Linked DNA regions of Homo sapiens: all the other regions are linked to region 1. Evidence: fine-mapped expression QTL. A gene starts in region 1. Each other region holds a variant in brackets. All regions are shown on one strand. Distances are between the middles of the regions.

Region 1 (5,914 bases):
AAATCAGAACAGTGATTGCTGACAGGGGTGGAGATGGGAGGGGTGAAATTAACTTGAAGGGGACTGATGGCACTTATTGGGGTAATATTTTGACTCGGATCTTGGTTTTATGAGCAGGTACATGCATTCTCAAAACTCAACTGGTTGAAATCTTAAGACTTGTGTATCTTACTATACATATAACTAAATTAAGAAAAATAGAAGTATGAACAGTACTCAGGTATATAAAAATTGTAGGTGGTACTCAAATGCCTTTAATTGGGTGGGGGGATCTAGAATATATAAATTATGAAGTGCATAGAATATCACACAAAGACCATCTATCACATCCTGACCCCTACCTTCCTGGCCAGCCTTATCGCCTAAAGTCTCTGTTTAAAGATATGTTAAACTATTAACAAATCAAATTTTCCCTGAAAATGCCATGTTAATTCATGCCTTAGTACTCTAATGCAATATATTAGTCCATTAAATATGACCTCTCTCTAACACTTAGGGAATTCCTACTTTATCTTTGAATACTCGTGACAAATATCTCCCAGCTCTATAGACTTCTCTGCCCTTCCCAAATTCCCATATAAAGGAAAAGAAACTAACATTTATTGAGGACTAAATATGTTTAGCCATTTTTACTCACTACCTTGTTCTATTACCAGAATTAGAAGATTGACAAGTTAAGGGCAAGTTAGTGGCCAATGGTCAGCTGTCATTATAGGCTACCTGACAGTTGGAGAGGGATGATTGTGGAGCCATTTACGTGAAAATTACTAGAAATCAGACTTCTCAGATTAACTAGCTGCTTGGTATTTAGGTAGTGACAGCCAAAAGACACTTAATACATATACAAATTTTGTTTTTTAAAATGACTTTTAAAGAACAATCCTAATACATACCTGGCTACAACTCTTTCAGGGAGAAAAAAAAAAAAAAGCAAATACACTTAGATGTTCCTTTTGGACCCTTACCTGTATTCTTTCTTGTCCTGTGGCAGAAGCAAACCCTGAAGCTCTACCACAAAGTCCTCATGCAATAAGCAATGGGAAACAGGAATGCTAGAGAAAAGAAAAAAGTTGAAAACATTTTTAGGTCAGGAACAGAGATCAATATCCTAAAGTCAAATCAAAACTATGGGTTTTTACACCAAGAATCTATGTATAACCTCTACTGGGTTTGTAATTCCCACACATTATCACAGCTATGGGCATTCCTTTGGGGAAGAAGTCCCTAGCTTTCATCTTTACCCACTTTCTCAAATAAAGCATAACTGTTTCTTGATGACTCAAAAGTTTAAAACCACACTGCACTGTGTAATCTCTACACTGGGATCCCCCTACGAATGACATAATTAGGGCTGGCTGTGAGGCCCTGTATGAATTTTCCCCAGGCTCTTCCCTTCATCCTTTCCCTCTAACAAGCTGAGAGCTGTCACTTAGTGTTATTCACACGCCTACCTCTAACAATACGCCCTATATGCTTCTTGTTTTGTGTAAGTTTTTAATCACTCCCTTCCAACTTATTATGAAAAAATTTAAATATATATAACATTTGAGAGTAAACAGGTTTGAGTGAAGGTTTAAAGTACTCTCCTAAACCTGTGGCACTTTTTTTGGCCTGTATATTGGTTATCAGATATAGTCCAAATAAATCAAGTTTATCAAATAATTGTCTTCAAATACCACTGTGCTAGTTTGTATAGCAAAGCATTTGTGTAGATGGGATCCTAAATAAGAGTGTTTCTCTTAATGTAAAACCAAATCTTATGCCACCATTAATGTTGAATTCCTGCAAAGGTAAAAATGCTTCTATCTCACAAAACTTGACCTGGGTACTATATCTGAGAGGCTCAGTGTAAATCATCTAACTCATGAAACAGAAACATGGGAAGTTAGTATACATGTTGAAAGGGCACTTTTCTAATACTGATATCCATTATGTACTCTACATCTGACACGGAGAAAAATAACTTTTCTCTACCAAGTTTTGCTGAATAGAGAGCAGGAGATGTTTAATGATGTGATGATAGTTTTAAAATTCACATAGAAAATGTAGACACTTGGTACTGTGAAAACATTAACACTTGACAAACTATTAACTTTCCTCACTTTAGAGAAGATGCTTAACATTTCTGACTCTCTCCTCCCACCTCAGCCTCACGAGTAGCTGGGACTACAGGCGTGTGATACCATGCCTAGACAATTTTTTTTAATTTTTCGTAGAGACGGGATTTCACCATGTTGCCCAGGCTGGTTTCGAACCCCTGGGCTCAAGCGATTCGCTCGCCTTCGCCTCCCAAAGTGCTGGGATTACAGGCGTCACACACCGCGCCAGGCCCTCCGTTGTTTCTTCCAGCGCTAATTTCTTTGAATTATCAATTTCACCATTTAGATGCAGAGAATCCTACTTAAAAATAAGAAGGCTAACAACTAATCACTAGAGTGTTTTAAGCTCAAACATTTAAAAAAAACCGTCGGGCCTAAAACTAGTGCAAAACAGGGACAAATTATTTTCCACTATGTCTGCTGTGTGTCCTTACTCCTTTAAAGGGGGAGGGACTGTCTGGGCAGGAGAAGGGAGTGGTTAAGGCCTGTCAAGTGAATAGAAACCCAGAGCTGGAAAACACCGGATCCTCAATTTTACAGGTAGGGGAACCATCGGCCCAGAGAGGGGGGTAACCAGCCTCGGGTCACACAGCCAGAATTAGCTGGGCGTCTTCCGAACACGCCACGCTGCCCTGGGATCACCAATTGCTTAAAGGGTCCTGACACCGCAAACTAGGGCCCCACCACTCCTCGGCCCTGTGACGCCCGACAGCGGGGAGCGGGAAGCTCCTCTCGGGAGGCCCCGGGCAGCCACAGGGAGTGGGGCCCAGCTCCAGACCTACTCGGTGGCCCGCACGAAGCTGCACGTGTCTGCCCGGCACACGTAGAAGCTCTTTCCTTTATTCGGGCCATCGCGGACGCCGGTCTTAAGAAAGCAGAAAGTCCCTGAAGAGAGAAGAAAGTGAACAACGATTACGCCACGCTAAATCAACAGGCCCCGGGACGCTGAGACCCTAGCCCCTTACCGTGCTCTGGACACCTAACTTCTTCCATTTCGCTGGGTCCCCCAAGTTCCACAAAGCCCCGCCCCCAATTCTGCTTCCGCCTTTTACTCCGCCCTCTTTGTTCAGGAACCAACCATCACTCAGCTCTTGCAGTCTTAATCCCTCCCATAATTCTCCGCCCTTGGCCTTCACCCGTCCTAGCCGCTATCAGCCAATCATATAGGAACTTCGCTCACCTCCAACCAATCACAGCTGCCCTCAGGTATGGCGCGCGCCGAAATCAAATACGGAGCCAGGGGGCGTAAAGGACCCGGCTTTTGCAGGCTGGGGCGTGGCTGAGGCTGGGGAGAAGCTTAGAAGGTGGCGGGGCTTCTGGAGGAAAAGAAGCTTCGATTTGCAGGTCTTGGAAGACGGAAGGGCAACTCTTGTTTACGTTTAAAACCGAGAGGCGGCCCTAGGGGTAGCGCCAGTTAGCAGGCGCTGAAAGGCCCTGGCTTCGTGGGTGTCTCTGAGCCAGGCTGGCGCTCGTGCGCGCTGGGCTCCGCGCTCAGTCGCTGGGGTGGGAGGCCAGGGGAAGCCGCCGCTGCAGGCCGAGCCGCGAGATTTGCAGTGCAGGAGCCGAAGCGGCGGGCATGGTGGGAGGTCCTTGGAAGCTGCTGCGGGGAACTGAAACGGCTCTGATAGGCAGGCACAAAGACTTCTCTAGGACCCCCTACAATGCTTTACGTTTGCCTCGTGCTTTAGATTTCACAAAGTGCTTACACATAACACGACCCTCCTCACTCGACCTGGTGAGATGGGTAGCATTTTGTGGAAGATTCCGAGACTCAAGTTTGAGAGACTCACCCAAGGTCAGAGTTGGCGAGTGGGCGGTCCGTGGACAGGTGCGCAGGTCTCAGCGCCATTTGGCCCGCGCTGCTGCTTCCTGTGTGTACTGGATGTTCTCTAGGCTCGCCCAGCGTGGAAGCCCCGAGTTACCAGCCGCAACGTGGAAACCACAGAAGGGGAAATAGATGACTTTTGGTGAAGGCGAATTTTACTTTATCATTTTGTATTGTCAAACTTTTTTTTACTATTATGCTTTTGTAATTTTAAAAATCGAAGACGAGGTTAAATAGAAGAAAGGGGACAGTTCCCTTCTATTTAACTTCATCCTCGATTTTTAAAATTTGAAGTTGTAATCAAAACTATTAGTAAACAGAGAGGAATAGATATTAGATTTATTGCAATAGAAATAGTTTCATATTGCAGCTATTGAGGACCATATGTCCCAGACATATGGTGTGGCACCTGCACTGTTCTTATGGGGGCCGTAGAACAGAAAATCTGTAATGTCTAGGAAATCTGGGCGATGTGATAAATGTACATGTTATGGGGATCCGGAGGAAGGGAGACAAACCTGAGGTATCATTTATTAATTAAACAGTACTTACTAAATAGCTTTTTTGTGCCCGTTGTGGACTAGGTGCTTGAGAAATGTAAAATTCATTCATTCACACACACAAAGTTTGAAACAACTATTCTAAGCACAAGGAACTTACTCAGTATTTTGAGGAGACTGAACTAGTACATGTTGAACACTTAAATAACAATATAAAATAGTATTTAAATGTCAAAATGAATGGAGTTAGCAGTAACTCTCTAGGACTAGAGAAAAATGGAATTTCCAAAGTGAAGTTCCTTTATACATAACTACCCTTCCGAAACTTAGATGAACTTAGAGATAAGACAGGAACAACAAATAGGTAGAAGCATTTTCATTATTCCAAGATTGTTATTCTTGCAAATGATGTATTTGTACATGTTTAATAGATGCTGTATTGGAGGTAGTATACCATGAATACAGGATTTGCAGAAAGAGGGGCATGGTAATTAATTATTTCTTGAATAATTTTCGAAACAAGGCAAAATCGGGGCCTCTTAAATATCCCGTTAAGGAAGAAGCTCCTCCTCTGCAAGTACCCAAGTCGGTATCTCCAGTCCAACCTCACAAAAGTGTGCACAGCCAAATCACAGACAGGAGGAATATTTCTTCCATAAATTAAAAATATACTAGATCAAAATGTTAAGTCCCTGGACAACTTATTCCACCTCATCATATTTACAAGATTGAAAAAAATAAGTTTGAGATTGGACGAAAGATGGTCATAACTGGAAACATTTTTAAAATTAATTTTTATGCCCGTTGAGTATGGTGGTGGGCACCTGCGGTCCTAGCTACTCAGGAGGCTGAGGTGGGAGGATGGCTTGAGCCCACAAGTTTGAGGCTACAGTGAGCTGTGATTGTGCCACTGCACTCTAGCCTTGGTGACAGAGTGAAACTTTGTCTCTTAAAAAAAAACTTATGCCTATTGAAATAAATAATAATGAATTATACAACATACACTTTTCAAAATATACACATGTATTGGTGTATGTGTATTAATTTTTATTCTTAATTTATATTTTAAATTTATATTGTTAATTAGCCTACAGACCCCCGGAGAGACCTTGGGAGAATGTGCTTTATGGATCTCTATTTTGAGTAAAGTTTAGAGTTTGTTTTTCCTTAAAGCTTGATTTATTCAAAATAATGTCTAGGCTGGGTCCTAGATTTAGATGGCTTAAAATGCACAGGTTAATTATCCAATAAATTTGTTCAGTATGGAGCTGGTCAAATGCAAAGTATATGTTGGAATTGTTCTAAAACTGGATTGTGGTAATGGGTGCACAATTGATTAAATTTACTAGACTCTTTGAATTGTACACTTTAAATAGGTGAATTCTATGACATCTAAATTATACCTTAATAAGGCTGTTTTAAAAACTAAGCAATGCCAAAATACCTATCTGCTGCATTGAAAGTAATAACTAAAATTGGTCATCTAGATA
Region 2 (5,914 bases), 57 kb after region 1:
TGACTAGAAATACAGATATTAGGAAGAGTTACTGTTGTGTGTATAAGGGTGAGTGAAAATATAATGCATTTAATTTTAGAAATACTAAATTTGAAGACCATGGAATAGACAGGAAGGATATCCAGCAAACATTTTGAAATATTTAAATATAGATATTTATATTTACATATAAATTATACATATTTTCAAAGGGTTAAATAGACTTTAACCCTTTGAAAATATTTGTAATCGAATCCTTTCAAAAACCCTGTGATATTCCCATATTTAGTTATGTAAAAACTCCTAGGATTTGAGCCAGACTTGAACATATTAATAGATCTGCAAATGCCAAATCCATGGCTGTCCCCATTGTTTCTTGTTGGCTCCTGTAAATGTCTGTTTGTAACTAGGGAGAGTTCTGAACTGTTAGATGTAGATTAGGTCAGTTACATACAAGTGTTGGGAAGTATTGGGGAACAGAAGGAAGAGGACTAAGGAGAGATTACTAGGGAATTTCTCTCTTTAGGGGATGGGATAAGGAACAAAACTTACAGAGGGAAGAGTTAGATGGAGGGCAACTAGGACACAGCGGCTGGAAATCAAGGGAAGAACATTCTAAGAGGAAAGGGCTTGTCAGCACTGCCAAAGGCTGCCAAGAGGTTGGGGACTCTGAAGGCAGAGGAGACTCCTGTTAGCTCGATGAGGAGGATGTCCATGAAGATCTTTGTAAAAGGGATTTCAATAGAGTGGAAGCAGCAGTTTTCAGGGTAAGAAGTGACTGCAGGAAGTGGAACCTACTTCCAGGAGTTTCATGGAGAAGGAAAAATGAAGATTAGGATGGCAGCTAGAAAGAGTAGCTAGGTGAGGAGCGGTAGGAAGGGGTGGGATGGAGAATGGGTGAAGCCAGCAAGGAGGATGAATGAAGTAATGTCCTAGTAGAGGGATGACAGGGAGGGTGCTGTGTTATAGTCTCAACGTCTGTGTCTTCCTAAAACTCACACGCAGAAACCTAATTTCCAAGGTGATGGTATTAGGAGATGGGGCATTTAGGAAGCAATTAGGTCATGAGGGCTGTGCTCTCATGAATGGGATTAATGCCCTTGTAAAAGAGTCCAGGAAGCTCGCTAGCCCCTTCTGCCACGTGAGGACACAGTTAGAAGGTGCTATGAGGAACAGGCCCTCACTGACACCAAACTGCCAGTGCCTTGATCTTAGACTTCCCAGCCTCCAAAACTAAATTTCTGTTGTTTATAAGCCCCCCTCCCCCACCCGCCCCAGTTTATGGTACTTTTGCTACAACACGCCAAACAGTCTAAGACATACTACTTTCTGAGAAAAGTGAAAGAAATAGTGTGGAGATTTCAAAGGTATTTTTCAGGTAGAAGGCATGACTGGCAGAGATCAACTCAAATGGCTATGCACTGGGGCCATAAGCTTAAGCATCTTACTATAAATATATTCTCTCTGGGTTTTTTCAAGTACATATCATCCACCCTCCGAAAAACACCTGTGAGGACTGCCCTCTTGCTCTCTCTTTTAATGGGTAGAGGGTTAGCTACTTTTGAATAGTAGCTCATATTCTTGTTGGCTGATGAGTACAAAGCTTGGCACTGACATACTAACATTAGAATCATGCTTTCAAAACACCAAAAATTCCTCGATGGTATTGACTTTCTTTAAAAATATCACTGGAATTGTCAAATTTACCACTGCAGTATTATTTGAATGAAAACGATTAGGTTGAACTGTATAAAATGGTCCATACTTGAGCACTTTTTATACCAAAAAAACAGCAGTTTCAAATAATGCTACCTTATACAAAACCTACCTCAGGAATAGCCAACATAACAAGCAGCTTCTTTCTCTTTTCACATTCAAAAACCCTATATGCTTGGAGGCTGAGATAGCTTCCATCCATACTAAGTGGAATCTTTTTTATTTTTCATGAATGCAAACTCAGTAAGACAGACAATAGCCCTTCCCCCAAACCCTGCCATATTAATGGCCATTATTTGTAGGGCAGCTAGTTTGGGTGGGGGAAATAGATCAAGCAGACAAAGCTAACTGCTAAATCCGAGAACTCATTTACCCATGACATTAATCTCATATGGCACCATTTTCTATCAGGATTGTTCAGTCCTTATATTTACTAAAAAAAAATTGGGACAAAGTGTAAATTTGCTAACCAATGTAATTGATCAATAGATCGTTATTTAAATAATTTATTTCAATTCCCCTCTATATTTGTAAGGACAAACAGCAGACTTCTAAAGCTTTTTCCAGTAACTTCCTGATTTATGTATTCTTCACATAAAAACTGTGCTTCTACACAAAATTAGTGCTTCAGATGAGTCAGAATTTAGAAGAAGTAAATGTATAACCCAGTTTAGGTAATTGTTTAAATGGGTTAAGGAAAAGCTTCCAGCTTCCCCTTTTTGAGCCTTGATTACTACTTTCCTTCCCCCAGGGCTTCTAGCCTGCTTACCAAAAAAAGAGACAGAATTTGCAATTCTATGAATTATTGCACAATGTAAACCCAGTTTCCTCCTATATACATAGCAAACATAGAATTCAAATACACAAAGCACATACACTTGAGAATCACACTCAGACAACTTAACCAAACAACAAAAACACACCAGCCCCCAAAGGATCCCACCAGTGCACCTATCCATCAACACCCGCCAAGCCAGTCTGGCAGGCATCCGTCACCCAGCAAGTGGTCCCAGTAACTTCCCCTGCAGGCCCTAGGTCTGACTCTTAACCTCACACTATCATATGTACCTAGAGACATGAGCACAATTCAACTCAATCAATGTTTATTAAGCAACCTCTTTGTGCTGAATGCTGTATTCTTTTCTTTTAATTCTTCAGCCATAGTCCTGGTCACACCAAATGCAGCTTGGTTTAGTTCCCCAATCATCCCA[G/A]CCATTCGGGTCCCTGCACTGGCTCCATCCAGTCTCTCTAAAGCAAGAGTTTTGTTTGTTTGTTTGTTTTTTTAGATGGAATCTCACTCTGTCACCCAGGCTGGAGTGCAGTGGCTCAATCTTGGCTCACTGCAACCTCCACCTCCCAGGTTCAAGCGATTCTCCCACCTCAGCCTCCCAAGTAGCTAGGGCCACAGGTATGTGCCACCATGCCCAGCTATAAAGCAAGAGTTCTTAACTGGGTCCACATGTAGGATTAAAGGGTCCATAAACTAGGGTGAAAAATAATCTTACATCTTTATTTTCATTTTTGCCTCTAATGGAAATTTAGTATTTTCTTCAGTTATGTATGTAGACAACCACAGATATCTTCATATCACATTACAACTACTTAAGATATATTGAAATGTTATTTATACTCATCATTACTTTGAAGTTTGGTGGTTAAAAGACCTACCTGTAGATTTTGTTATGTAATGCATAAATAAGAAGCAAATAAATTACTGCATTATAATTTATTTAAAATATTTTGATACCTGTATTTCAATGTGACTGATTTCCTCTGTAATTCTATGCATTTTATTTTATGCATTTTAAACATTATTCTGAGATGGAGTCTATTCTCTTTACCAGATGTTAATGAAAACTGTAGCATAAAAAGTACCTGCTATCTGGTTTGAAACTATTCCATTACCTGCTCAACTCATCTGACTCTCCCTTCTACCTCCAAATTTTCTCTTCTTCCATCCTATTCAAACATAGATAAATGCCCCTAGATCAGGCAAGCCCCTCTGCATGGCCCTCAGTAGAGCCAAGTGAATCTTCCTGTTCATTTCTCAGTCTCTCAGTAGTCAATTTCCACTTCCACTCGCAGGTGAAATCTAGAACCTTCTTTTAGCATAGTCTAAAACTACTAAGTACTTTCATAACCTTTCTTTCCATCCAGTCATATCTGCAAGGCATAGTTATCCCATCAAGCCTTAATATCAGGCAAACCTTAAGGTCTCCTCTCAGTTTGGGACACAAAGCTTTTTTACTGTCTCTTGGGATGATCGGCCCAGGAAGATGAGTAAAGCCAGGGCCAAGCAAAACTGACAGATCTGGCAACACACACAAATGTTAAAACCAATGGAATCTTGTGCATGGGACTCAACCAAGCATTGTGACTCCCTGGAACTCAAGGATGTCTAGGTAAGCCAAGAACTGTCATTAGTAAGTCAAAAATTATTGCTAACATCAGAAATATATGGCATAGTTGTTCCTGTAGAGACCAAATTGTCCTGTTCCATCACTCAGCACCCTGAGTTGATGAACTCCTGTGACAAGAGAAACATAAAGGATTATGAAACTTACTCAGAAGGAGAAAGAAAGATGCCACATATGAGATGCCTGCCATTTGGGCCAGCACAGTCCTTTTTCGTCCCAATAGTGTCACTAACATTCAGAGGTTGAGTGACAAATGCTGTGCTCTCACTGCAAAGTAAAGAGGAAGCAAAAGTGTGGTTTTCAGCCCACTGAGAAATAGAGATGTCTTGTGAAAAGCAAAACTGGTTACATTATGTAGCTCTTTACTAATCACTCAAATTTGGGAGTAAAAAAGTTATCTTTGTGGTTAAGTAAACAGATATCGATAAAACTAAGAAAAGATGGGTCTCAACCTGGCTCACAGTATGTGTCATTTGGTAATGATGAGAGAATTTAGGTAAACTGAATAAATAAAAAAGGCACCAGCAATGTTGTCTTCTTGGCCCTTCCTTCTCCTCCTCTCTTGAGAGAGGAAATGACTGAGAAATGGGAGAAGGCCCCTGAAAAACATGAACTTGGGGCGACATGAGGTGGTGCTGAAGGTTACAGGCTCTAGAGTCAGGCTGCCTGGGTTTGCATGCAGATTCTAGTTTTAGTAACTGTGCAATCTTAGAAAACTTAATTAACTTTTCCTAACCCTCATTGCTAAAATGAGGATACTAATAGTAGGTACCCTGTAAGATTACTGTGAATGCCAAATGAGCTAATTTTTTAATTATTTTTTTATTTCTTTTTTTTTGTATTTTACTTTTTTTTATTATTATTATACTTTAAGTTCTAGGGTACATGTGCACAACGTGCAAATTTGTTACATATGTATACATGTGCCATGTTGGTGTGCTGCACCCATTAACTCGTCATTTACATTAGGTATATCTCCTAATGCTTTCCCTCCCCCTTCCCCCGACCCTATGACAGGCCCCGGTGTGTGATGTTCCCCTTCCTGTGTCCAAGTGTTCTCACTGTTCAATTCCCACCTATGAGTGAGAACATGCAGTGTTTGGTTTTTTGTTCTTGAGATAGTTTGCTGAGAATGATAGTTTCAAGCTAATTTATTTAAAGCACTTAGAACAATATCTGGTACATAGTAACTGCTCAATGAATATTAGCTACCATCATCACCATCATGAGACATTTAAGTAAATCTTCATCTGCCCTGTGAAACTGCCTTTGCAAAAATTGTAACAGTGAGAAAGTTATGACAGTGAAAGGGATCTGACCTCACCATCTCCATCTTGCTTCTAACTTCCAAGCTGCCCTTGTTAATTCCTGGTTGTAGGCCAAACTAACTTTGGGAGGAATTTAGCTTAGTTTAATTTTGAAACAAAGAGGATAACAGCCCTTTCTGGAAACAAACCCCCTTCTTGCCTGGGGAGCAGACTTCCCTAGTAAGACTAACAAATTAGCCACAACATTAGAAATTATGGTTTAGGAGTCATGCAGCCAGAGGCCACACAATTCCAACCTCCCCAACTGTTCCTAGGGATAACATCACTATTGTAAAACCTAAATTGGTGCTCAAGGTATTTTTCAGACCCTGCATCCTGATGCACCAGCTGACACCATCCAGGCTGGTGATCTGGTTCCACCAGTTCTTTGATCCCACTTAGGAACGGAAGACTGCAAGAACCCCCTTTGATCCCCTGTGATTTCATCTCCTACCTGACCAATCAGCACTCCCCACTCCCTGGCCTGCCAAATTA
Region 3 (5,914 bases), 100 kb before region 1:
CTCAATCTGGCCCTGGGTATCAGCAAAATATGGTAGAAAGGGCATAGGCTCAGGGCCAGACCAGGTTGTGTTTGACCCTGACTCTACTAACAGCTAGATCCAAGGCATTCGGCAAGCCATTTAACCTCATGGAGTCTCTATCCTCATCCATAAATGGGTATAATGGTCATTCTTACTCTCTCATGGCTTAAAATGAGTCTCTGTAAGCAAACATTTAGTGAAATGTTGTTTTCCTTACCTCCTGGGGCTCTGATCTGCAATCTTTCCAAATGATTGTAGTTAATAATGGTTATTAATATCAATACTGATTTAAGGTTTAGCATGTGGCAATTCAGGTACAATATTTAGCACTTTACCTGCATTGTATCATTAAGTCCTTTCAGGAACCCTCTAAGGGAGCATCCCCATTTTACAGATTTTAAAAAATGGTGAAATAAAGGGTTAGAAAACTTGACCAAGGTCACATATCCAATAAGTGGCAGAGCTGGGACTTCAACCCAGGCAGCCTGTACCTGTGCCATGTTCTCAAACACCATGTTCTGCTGCTTTCCTACATTGTTCCCGTATCTGGCCTTGCCCAGTGTCCTTTTAAATTTCTTCTCACGGAAGCAACTGTTCTCCCCACCCCACCGTCTTCTTTGGCAAGAGTGACACTCACAGGTTTGACCCCAAGGTTAAGCTTTGCATTTCGACCTTGTAAGCCATGTACTGTGGTGCCCATCTGGACAGCTGAGTTTTAGCAGATGCTGGTGACCATCTGCTGAAGACATCTAGCATGCTCTCTATGCTACTGGAATGTACGAACCTGTCTTTCTGAGTCATTTCAAAGGACAGCTCATTTTCCAGGTTTTATCCAGCGCTGTGGGCTGCCCCAGCATCATAGTTTCTGTAAAGAATCCTTGTCTTGTGTTACCTATACCCCCACTTCAAGATATTCCTACTCCTACAACGGAGCGCTGATTGAATAGTACTCCCACTGTGTGAACCCAGAGCTGCTCAGGTTTCGTCTTGCCCCTGCTTTAACAGCCCCACTTTCCTCATGCAGACAGGAGCTGTGGTAGTTAATTAGCCCTCACAAGCTGGATAATTAATTTTCAGTAAGTGGCTCAGTCTTCCAATTTTAAAGGGGTTTAATGAAATCTTAGAGGTAAATGAAATGCTTAAAATCTGTGCCCATTTAATAGAATTCTCTATCAATAGGTACCTGCCTCTAGCCCATCTCCATGGGGTCCTTTTGTCCTTTGACTCAACAAGTCACACAAGAATCTCTGGTGGAGTGAGTCTCTGTCTCCAAAAAATAAAAAAAAAAGAATCTCTGGTGGTCAGTAGGCCTGGAGAGTCATAGGAGGCCAGATGGCATAATCCTCCTTGAGCCTATGTTTGTTTGCAAGTCTGAATAGTTTCTTTTCTTGTGAGAAGTAATATTTACATGTGGTTGCTTGCAAATTAAATTTTGTCACTTTTAACAATCATTTATTCACTTAACAAACAAGTATTTTATTGACTGCTTTCTGGGTGCAAAGCAATGGCTAGGTCCCTGTGGTTTTTTTAAGTTCTCACTGGCTCTTATTTCTCTTCTTTATTTGACATTGGGGTGGAGGGGATTTAATCAACATTACACTCATTCCATCTGCCACATCATTAATGCAACCTTAAATGACTAGAACCTGCAGCAGGTCCCTAGGGCATTCCACAGCTGCCTACTTTTAATCATTAACTTCTCTGGGAGATATTTCAACGGATTCCCTAACTGTGAGCTCAAGGCCAACATATTAAAATTAATTCAGTAATACAGTTGCTGAACTAAGGTATGTCATTACCATTTCATTCTCTCCATAAACTGTGCTAATCATGTATTTTTTCTGAGAAGTAATCTTTCAATTCAACTTTAATGGCACTTTATCAACAACCATCAAATTTACCTTTGCTGTAACATAGTTGTATTTGATTCATGATTTTATTGTGAACCTCTCAGTATTTTTATTGCCTTCCTTTTCATTGGATCACATTTCCCCAAAGTTTAGATGTGGTAATCCTGCCAAACGTCCCTTACTCCTACAATAATTTTAGCCTATCTCAAACAATGCTTTGATTTCTACTGATTTCCATTTATTTATTCATTTATTCATAAACTCAGCAAACATTATTTTTCTCTGCAGAAACATAGCTCTAGGCACTACAGGACTTACAGATAGGATTAAGACAGTTTCTGCTCTTGAAAAGCTCACAAACTAGTTCCAGAGATAGATTAGAGACCAGGTAGAGGGAGACAGCTGCTATAATAAAGGCCAAAAAGACAAAAAGTTACAGGAAAGTAAAGAGAGAATCTACTAATTTTTCCTTTGGTGAATTAAAAGAGGATTTCATGGGAGGGCTGCCATCTGAACGGACTTTGAATATAAGTAGAATTTGCATAACTGGTGTTAAAGAAGTGTGAGCTATGAATTAATAGGTACAAGATGAACAGCAGTGTGAAGGCGCATAGTGTAATTGTGTAACCCATGCTAGCCTGGGATGCCTTGGATATCATTCTCTAAGTAACAATACTTGCAAAGCAAACTGAATCTTTAAATCAATGTTCAAGAAAATACCAATGCAGGGAATGGAGGTGTGTTGTGTTCTTATTACACAGCAAAAACTTCATTTTGTCCTCTTTCATAATTCGTCTCCCAGATCTCCCACAGGAATGGCCATGCATGGCAGCTGCTTCCAAAGTGTCTTTTCTCACGCTCTCAAGCCTCCAAAACATCCTTCCAAACCAGGCTATGTACTTGTTTTTGTCTCCTCTTCCTCCTTTTCTAGCTATAATTTTTCTTCCATCAGTAGCCTTCTGTTCTTTCTGCTGCAAATCCATCTAGATTAGCTTCTCCAGTTCTCTTCCTCATTCATTACCCTCATTTACTTTGTAGAGGTCTAGGAGTCAATGAGATAATTCCAACCCCTAATAGGCTGGAAGAGGAGAAGAGCCAAGGATATCCTTATGTTGATAATGTTTACCTCTCACATTAAAACAACAACAACAACAACAACAAACACGTCTGCTTTGTTTGTATGTTTTTTATTTAAGGCAGAAAATCAACAAATAATTTGATACAGACAGACAGAATGGACTATGAAAGGATGTAGTTGGAGAGAAGGCTGCAAAGACAGCAATAAGGGCTAATATGTATGGAGCATTTACTATGTAGCAGGCAGTGTTTAGCTTTGAAGTCCAGGCTGGAAAATCTGAAATCCATTCCACAGCTCTTAGGAACCATTAAAGATGAGTGATTAGAAAACAGATATGTTCAAATTGTACTGTAAGAAGGTCTACCTGTAGGATTAATGCATGTAAAATGGATTGGATGGAGG[C/T]GAAGATGAAAGGTAGAAATACCAATAAAGAAGCTGATAAGTCCAGTTAGGAAGTGCTCAGGACCCGTTATGTTGGGCTTTTTTGGCTGTAAGAAAGAGAGACTTGTGCAGGCCACTTTAATATCAGGTGTTGTTTAAAGGATGTGCAGAGATTAGGACAGGAACTAGACCTGAACACCCCAGGATCCAAGACAGCTCTGGGGATGAAAGACTCTTTCCATTTTTCTCTCCCATGGTCTCTCCCCCATACTTCTTTGTGTCTCCTCCACTCTCCTCTTGGGCTCCAAGGCCATCTGCCCTTAGTTTCATATCCAAGCCACAGAAAGAGCCTCTCAAGAAGATTCAGTTAATTAAATCACCCCAATAGGTGTCCTCAGTCAGCAGCCCCCAGTGTACAATGAACAGCTGATTGATCCTTCCTTGACTGGGTAGGCTGTAGGCTGGCCAAGTGAGGAGGAAGCAGTTGGATACAGCTGGCACATAATTAATATTTCTACTGGTGGTATGTCAGTAGAGGAGAGGGTGGCTTTCATTTTAAACCAAAAATCAACTGAATTAAATACAGTTCTTCATTATGCTATAGCTAGCACTGTAAACTTGATCAAATCAGTTATTTTCTCACTGCCTTAGTTTCTATGTCATTCAAACAGAAATAAAAGTTACAGCACTTTAGAATTCAGCATTTTTCAGAATGACTAGGCCACATTTAGTTAACATGAGATTTCACTTCTGTGCTACTTCTGGTTAACTGAGAATAACAATACCTTATATGTGTAATTACAGTTTGCAAATCAGGTTAATATCCATTTGATTTGATCCTCACAAGAAACCTTTAAAGTAGGTGATATAGTTTGGCTCTGTGTCCCCACCCAAATCTCATCTTAAATTATACTCCCATAATTCCCATGTGTTGTGGGAGGGACCTGGTGGGAGATCATTTGAATCATGGGGGTGGTTCCCCCCATACTGTTCTCATGGTAGTAAATAAGTCTCACAAGATCTTATGGTTTTATCAGGGGTTTCTGCTTTTGCATCTTTCTCATTTTCTCTTGCCACTGCCATGTAAGAAGTGCCTTTCACCTCCCGCCATGACTCTGAGGCCTCCCCAGCCATGTGAAACTGTTAAGTTCAATTAAACCTCTTTTTCTTCCAAGTCTCGGGTATTTCTTTATCAGCACTGTGAAAATGGACTAATACAGTAAATTGGTACCAGTAGAGTGGGGCACTGCTGAAAAGATACCCAAAAATGTGGAAGCAACTTTGGAACTGGGTAACAGGCAGAGGTTGGAACAGTTTGGAGAGCTCAGAAGAAGACAGGAAAATGTGGGAAATTTTGAAACTTCCTAGAGACTTGTTGAATGGCTTTGACCAAAAGCCTTATAGTGATATGGACAATAAGGTCCAGACTGAAGTGGTCTCAGATGGAGATGAGGAACCTGCTGAGAACTGGAGTAAAGGTGACTCTTGTTATGTTTTAACAAAGAGACTGATGATGTTTTGCCCCTGCCCTCGAGATTTGTGGAACTTTGAACTTGAGAGAGATGATTTGGGGTATCTGGTGGAAGAAATTTCTAAGCAGCAAAGCATTCAAGAGGTAACTTCGGTGCTGTTAAAGGTATTCAGTTTTATAAGGGAAGCAGAGCATAAAAGTTTGGAAAATTTGCAGCCTGACAATGTGAAAGAAAAGAAAAACCCATTTTCTGAGGAGAAATTCAAGCTGGCTGCAGAAATTTGCATAAGTAATGAGGAGCTGAATGTTAATCCCTAAGACAATGGGGAAAATGTCTGCAGGGTATGTCAGAGGTCTTCATGGCTGCCCCTCCCATCACAGGCCTGGGGTCCTAGGAGAAAATAGTTTTGTGGGCCGGGCCCAGGGTCCCCATGCTGTGTGCAGCCTAGGGACTTGGTTTCCTGTATCCCAGCTGCTCCAGCTGTGCCCAAAAGGGTCTTGGGCCATGGCTTCAGAGGGTGCAAACCCCAAGTCTCGGCAGCTTCTATGTGGTGTTGAGCCTGTGAGTGCACAGAAGTCAAGAATTGGGGTTTGCGAACCTCCACCTAGATTTCAGAAGATGTCTGGAAATGCCTGGATGCCCAGGCAGAAGATTGCTGCAGGAGTGGGGCTCTCATGGAGAACTTCTGCTAGGGCAGTGCAGAAGGAAAATATGGAGTCGGAGCCCCAACACAAAGTCCCCCTGGTGCACCACTTAGTGGAGCTGTGAGAAAACAGCCACTGTCCTCCAGACCACAGAATGGTAGATCCACTGACAGCTTGCACTGTTCTTCTGGAAAAGCAACAGACACTCAATGCCAGCCTATGAAAGCAGCTGGGAGGGAGGCTGCACCCTGCAAAGCCACAGGGGTGGAGCTGCCCAAGACCATGGAAACCCACCTCTTGCATCAGCATGACCTGGATGTGAGACCTGGAGTCAAAGGAGATCATTTGGAGCTTTAAAATTTTGGACTTGCATAGGCCCTGTAACTACTTTGTTTTGGCCAATTTCTCCCATTTGGAATGACTGTATTTACCCAATACCTGTACCCCCATTGTATCTAGGAAGTAACT

What was found. PIP is the estimated chance that this variant, and not a neighbour inherited with it, causes the effect.
Region 2: its variant is fine-mapped to the expression of TTF2 in lung (GTEx, PIP above 0.99).
Region 3: its variant is fine-mapped to the expression of TTF2 in whole blood (INTERVAL, PIP 0.98).

The regions. Positions count from the first base shown.
Region 1 is chr1:117,057,525-117,063,438 of GRCh38, reverse strand. It overlaps TTF2 (transcription termination factor 2), which reads right to left and starts at 3,113. Exons shown (of 23, transcript NM_003594.4): 1 at 3,065-3,113; 2 at 2,882-2,984; 3 at 966-1,052. The coding sequence starts at 3,092. It overlaps CD101-AS1 (CD101 antisense RNA 1), which reads left to right and starts at 3,949. Exons shown (of 4, transcript NR_110786.1): 1 at 3,949-4,066. RefSeq lists an enhancer at 3,413-3,572 and a silencer at 3,993-4,042.
Region 2 is chr1:117,000,206-117,006,119 of GRCh38, reverse strand. It overlaps CD101 (CD101 molecule), which reads right to left and starts at 4,360. Exons shown (of 10, transcript NM_001256106.3): 1 at 4,260-4,360. The coding sequence starts at 4,302. The variant G/A (reference allele first, on the strand shown) is at 2,907.
Region 3 is chr1:117,157,839-117,163,752 of GRCh38, reverse strand. All of the region lies in intron 2 of VTCN1 (V-set domain containing T cell activation inhibitor 1), which reads left to right. Among named protein-coding and RNA genes, the nearest start is that of TRIM45, 39 kb to the right of the region's middle. The variant C/T (reference allele first, on the strand shown) is at 3,352.